Regions from separate parts of the Homo sapiens genome. Here region 1 is linked to region 2. Evidence: fine-mapped expression QTL. A gene starts in region 2. The other region holds a variant in brackets. All regions are shown on one strand. Distances are between the middles of the regions. Region 1 has its middle 5.8 kb from the start of MIR146A. Region 2 holds the start of MIR3142HG (MIR3142 host gene).

Region 1 (2,917 bases), 23 kb after region 2:
TCTCAGCTCACTGCAACCTCCGCCTCCTGGGTTCAAGCAATTCTCCCTGCCTCAGCCTCCCGAGTAGCTGAGATTACAGGTGCCCACCACCACGCCTGGCTAATTTTTGTATTTTTTACTAGACAGGGTTTCGCTATGTTGGCCAGGCTGGTCTCGAACTCCTGACCTCAAGTGATCTGGCTGCCTTAGCCTCCCAAAGTCCTGGGATTACAGGCGTGAGCCACTGTGCCTGGCCATAGCTCTTTTCATAATCCTAATTTTAGAGATAGGAAAGTGGAATTTTCAAAAGATTTTGCAACGTATCTGTGCCCCGTGCCATATAGCTGGTAACTGGTGACGTGGAGCCTCAAAACCAAAATCCCTATAGCAAAAAGATCATTTTTACTTAAAAAATGTATACAAATATACATGAACTTAGAAGGAAGGAAAGAAAAAAAATCTTTTGCCTCTGTTTCTGCAGTGTGACTGAAAACAGAAGAGCATGCATTGAGGCCCACTCTGACTTATTCCTCCACCTGTGCCTTTGGTCAGCAGGAGTGAGCCCCCGTCCATGACCAATTCCACCCCAAGGACACAGTTATACTTTAAAATATGTGACAATTGAGAAGCCATATGTGCTTTTTCTTTGGGTCCTGCAATGCTCCTAAGACTGGTCAGATTCCACTGTCTCTGATCAGCACATGTTTATTTATTTATTTATTTATTTTATTTCTGAGACAGTCTCTCTCTGTCACCCAGGCTGGAGTGTAACGGTGCGATCTCGGCTCACTGCAACCTCTGCCTCCCGAATTCAAGCAATTCTCCTGCCTCAGCCTCCTGAGTAGCTAGAACTACAGGCATGCACCACCATGCCTGACTAGTTTTTGTATTTTTAGTGGAGATGGGGTTTTGCCTTGTTGGCCCGGCTGCTCTGGAACTCTTGACCTCAAGTGATTCACCTGCCTCAGCCTCCCAAAGTGCTGGGATTACAGTTGTGAGCCACCACACCTGGCCATATTTCCTTATTTTAAAACTTATTTTTCTTCTTATATATGTAATATGAATTTATGGCAAATAAGTTTGAAAATATGGGAAAGTATAAAAGAGAAAATTTGAAGTTATTAAAATTTTTAAATTATGAAATTATGATTTTTTTTACTGGAAATTTAGAGAATTCAGAAAATCATAGGAGAAAAAAGTTATCTATACACTTATAGATTACCATTTTGGGTTATTTCTTTTCATTTTCACTTTTTTTTCTTTTACACGATTGGGATTATCTTTAATTTGTGTATCTGTGTTCTGTGTTCTGTTGTTTAACATTTTATAGTATGCTTTTCTTCATGTCCTTGCATGGTCTTTTTATTTATTTTAAATGGGTGCATATGCAGTTCATGGGCTGGATGCGCCTTTGTTTACATGATCATTTCCTTATTATCAGACATTCTGAACCTGGGTCTCCTGACTCTAAATCTGCTGCTATTTTTTGTCCCCACATATCTGTCTCTATTTCCTTTAGCTTCTTGTTTGCATTTATTTGAGAATTAATTGTGATGATTTTAGGAGTGTAAAAAACAGTATAAATAAATGTGTCTTGTATTACTACATAACGGTGCTAGTGTTGAGGATTTACTATGTGCCAATCTCTATTTCAATACTTTGAACAGCTTCTCATTAAAGCCCCCG[C/T]CTCCCACAACAACAGTAGATAGTTATTATTCCCATTATATAGATGATATCACAGACATACACAGAGGGTAAGTATCATAGCACATTCATTTGTGTCTAGCAAAACTTCAGCTTACAGAGCCATATACAAATAGGCATTTATTTGTTCTTAGCCAGTCTGAATATGAGCAACTACTACTAGCATTTGGGTTAGAGTCTCAGTGACATCAAGGCTGTTGTCACTGCAGAAATTTTCTCCTGTGCCTCTTGGTTTTAAAGTGGCTGCAAAAGCCATAGATATCACATCCTGATTCAGGGGAGGAAGAGAGAGAAACAGATGGTGTGGACTGGTCACATCCGCTCCTTTTATCAAGAAAGCACATTTTCTTTCCAGAACCCCCTTCATCTCCCCAGCAGAATTCCACTCATGCATTATTGTGTTTTTCATGACCACTGCCAACTCCAGAAGAGACTGGGAAAATGAATGTTTTAACTTTTTCAGCCTCTGGAGTGGAAGAGAGGTTTGGGAATGACTTTTTTCTTTTTCTTTTTTTGACACAGAGTCTCACTCTGTCACCCAGGCTAGAGTGCAGTGGCATGATCTTAACTCACTGCAGCCTCCACCTCCTGGGTTCAAGTGACTCTCGTGCCTCAGCCTCCCAAGTAGCTGGGAATACAGGCATGTGTCACCATGGCTGGCTAATTTTTGTATTTTTAGTAGAGGCAGGATTTCACCATGCTGGTCAGGCTGGTCTTGACTCCTGATGTCAAGTGATCCACCTGCCTCTGCCTCCCAAAGTGCTGGGATTACAGGCTTGAGCCACTGCACCTGGCCTGGGAATCACTTTTGCTCTGGATTAAGTTATGTCCCCCAGAATTCATATGTTGAAGCCCTAACCCCCCAGTGTGACTGTATCTAGAGATAGGGTCTAGGAGGTCATTATGGTAAAATGAGGTCATAAGGGTGGGGCCCTAAGACCCATAGGACTATGGCCTTATAGGAAGAGGAAGATTCAATCTCTCTCTCTCTCTCTCTCCTACCCCATCGCCACCCCCACCCCCCATGGTGACACAGTGAGAAGGCACCAAACTTGACCATGTTGGCATCCTAATCTCAGACGTCTAGCTTCCAAACTGTGAGAAAACAAATTTGTTTTTTAAGCCACCCATTCTATGGTATTTTGTTATGGTAGTACAAGCTGACCAAGACAAATAGCCACCACAAGATATCAGCGCTGGTCAAGTGTTGGTCTTATTTTTCCTAGCAGCCAAT
Region 2 (2,917 bases):
GGAACTCCCTTCCAATGGGAGAGAATCTCACACAAGGAAATAGTTTTGATGTGGACCCCTTGAGAGGCAGAGTAATGCAGTGTACCAGGTTCAGAGATTTGGGGACAGGAAACCTCAATTCAAATCCTGGCTCTGATATTTTCTAGCTATGTGAACTCTGGCAAGTTTCGACTCTCTTGGAACCTCGGTTTCCTCATTTCTAATCTAAGAATAGTATCTGCTTTTTAGGGTTCTTAGGAGTATTAAATAAGAACATGTTTTTATGAACAGTGTCTGGTGTATAACAATTGCTCAATAAATATTTGCTTTTAAAAACGTTATCTATAGTAGACGTTCAAACAAACCTTTTGGGAGCTCAGCAAGATAAGCAACAAAAACCTTCAGGGGAGGTCAGGAAAGTGACTACATCTGCCTGGAAGCAAAATCCTTTGAGCTGGTCTTTTTCGGTCCATGAGCACGTGACCAAGGAAAGGAAGCTATATTTTCTCGACTGGGAATTTGAATTTGCAGTTGCACATTCCAAAGGCCTTGTACGTTCTTTCCAGTTTGGGAAAAGGAGCAGCTAAGGGCACCCATGGAAACACTTACTAATTGTGTGACCTTAGGCAAGTCCCCCTAACCTCACCAAAGATAAAATTCCCTTATGAGTAAAAGGGGATCACAAAATGGAGATAATAATTCGGGCTACCTGCTATGGATGATTGCTGTGGGATTAGGGAAGATGATGCACGTGATACATTTAGCAGAGTGCCTGGTGCCTAGTAGGTGCCCATTAAAATTTAGCTATGACTGTTCTCTTTAGCTGACACACAAGACTGCCTTGAATGTTCACATTTCCAGAGAAAGGTGCTCAGGAAGATTTCTCAGTGTTCCGCCTGCCAGGTCAGTTTACAGTTCAAAGAATCCCTTTGTTCAAAGGGTGAGCAAATCCAGGCCTCGTGTATCTGCAGCAATGAAACAAGGGAGCTTTCTGCCTGATCTTCTCCCCAAAGGCAGTCTCTCTTTTTAAATGCCTGCACACATGTTATTTATTTATTTTTGGTTAACGTTTAAATTGAGGTTTTGGCTGAAACTCAGCCTGCGCGCACTTGAAAAGCCAACAGGCTCATTGGGCAGCCGATAAAGCTCTCGGGATTTCCCCGCGGGGCTGCGGAGAGTACAGACAGGAAGCCTGGGGACCCAGCGCCTGACCAGAACTTCCTCGGGGGAGGCTGCAGGGGAGCAGGCGCATCCTGCACAGAACGCTCTAGAGCGCGCAGGCCAAAGCACCAGGCTGCTCCTGACACGTGCTGCAAGAGGGTCCCCGACCCGGGGGTCCAGACCCTGCACGCATGATGGGGAAGGTGGAGGCTTCCCCCTCAGCTCCGCGGAGAGAAGCTGACACTGCCAGGCTGGAACCTTCCATTCCGGCCCAGCCTCTTCCTCCCTCGCTGTGCCGAGGAGGGATCTAGAAGGGACTTTCCAGAGAGGGTTAGCGTGCAGGGTGTGGAAATGGAATAAAAGCATATGCAAATAGGCCTTAGCTGCCTTCCTCTACCCCAGCAAATAAGAGTCTCTCCAGAAAGATGCTCTTTCTCCAAGACGCTTGACCGCTCTTCCTTTCCTGGATGGCACCAGCAGGGCCGATTGGAGTGGTAAACCCTGGGCCGGAAGGCATGCCAAAGGGTGGACAGGATGGACAGGAGACAGTAGCACAACGAGGAGGGGGAGAACAGCGGCTGAATTGGAAATGATAAAATAAAATGAAATTTTAGGAGCTCGCTGTGAGTATGAGCTGGGAAAAAATAATCATTGCAAGCTGATTTATTATGTACTTATCTTCTGTTTGAGAGGCAGCAGGCTTTTGTACAGTGGATTATTGCAGAGTAAATGGCACATTAAAGATATAATCAAGATGTTTAAGGCATATTGAAATGACATTAGAATCAAGTAGGTGAGACTTTTGTCATGGTCTAGAAATATAAAAATGTCAGTGACTTGGAGATATTTCCAGTGCTTTAGTAAAGATGTGGCTCCATTTTCAAAAGGGACATATTTTTAACCTTTTGTTATTTTCAGGGTGGGGGGGGATAGAGTGGGGTCAGGAAGTGGTTTAGAATCTCTATGGATGATAAAATAATATGCTTTAAACCTGGAGTTGTAGACTGTGGTCTCTATTTAGCAAGTCATAAACTTTCTTGCAGTGACAATAGCATGAAAATATTGGACAGTAAATATGGTGCTCTTAGGAGGTTTCAGGGTTGGAAGACTATGGCTATTACTTTTTGTTTATTGTGTTCCTATTCTCAATTTCAATCTTGTCTTTGGATAGTAAGAATTTTTTTTAAATTTTCTATTTTTTTAAAAAGAATCTTTTACATACTGAACCTGACTTGTATACTAATTGGCAAACAGTGTCACTTTTCTTTCTTGATGCCTCAATGGGTTTAATTATTGTATTACGGTATTTTCTTGTCATTTGAGACCTTCACATTCAGTGTCCTTTCTTTCTTTTTTTTCTTTTTCTTTTTGAGATGGAGTCTTGCTCCCGGCCTGTCGCCCGGGCTGGAGGGCAGTGGTAAGATCTCGGCTCACTGCAACCTCCGCCTCCTGGGTCCAAGCAATTCTTGTGCCTCAGCCTCGAGAGTAGCTGGGATTACAGATGCGCGCCACAATGCCTGGCTAATTTTTGTATTTTTAGTAGAGACAGGGTTTCGCCACGTTGGCCAGGCTGGTCTTGAACTCCTGACCTCAGGTGATCCGCCCGCTTCGGCCTCCCAAAGTGCAGTGTCCTTTATTTTATTTGTGTGCCCTGGTTCTGCTTTGATTTTGCCCCAAACCCTTCTGAGTGTAGCGCTTTACTGACACTTTATCCCCGTTATTAACAATGGGTTTTTGGACAGAACTGGCTTCTCTTTATTTGTTGTTTTTAAAATCA

Evidence for each region.
Region 1: its variant is fine-mapped to the expression of MIR3142HG in whole blood (TOPMed, PIP above 0.99).

The regions. Positions count from the first base shown.
Region 1 is chr5:160,489,663-160,492,579 of GRCh38, forward strand. No RefSeq gene overlaps it. Among named protein-coding and RNA genes, the nearest start is that of MIR146A, 5.8 kb to the left of the region's middle. The variant C/T (reference allele first, on the strand shown) is at 1,666.
Region 2 is chr5:160,466,678-160,469,594 of GRCh38, forward strand. MIR3142HG (MIR3142 host gene) reads left to right here and starts at 1,574. Exons shown (of 2, transcript NR_132748.1): 1 at 1,574-1,763. RefSeq lists enhancers at 518-1,154, 1,155-1,791, 1,259-1,488, 1,519-1,678.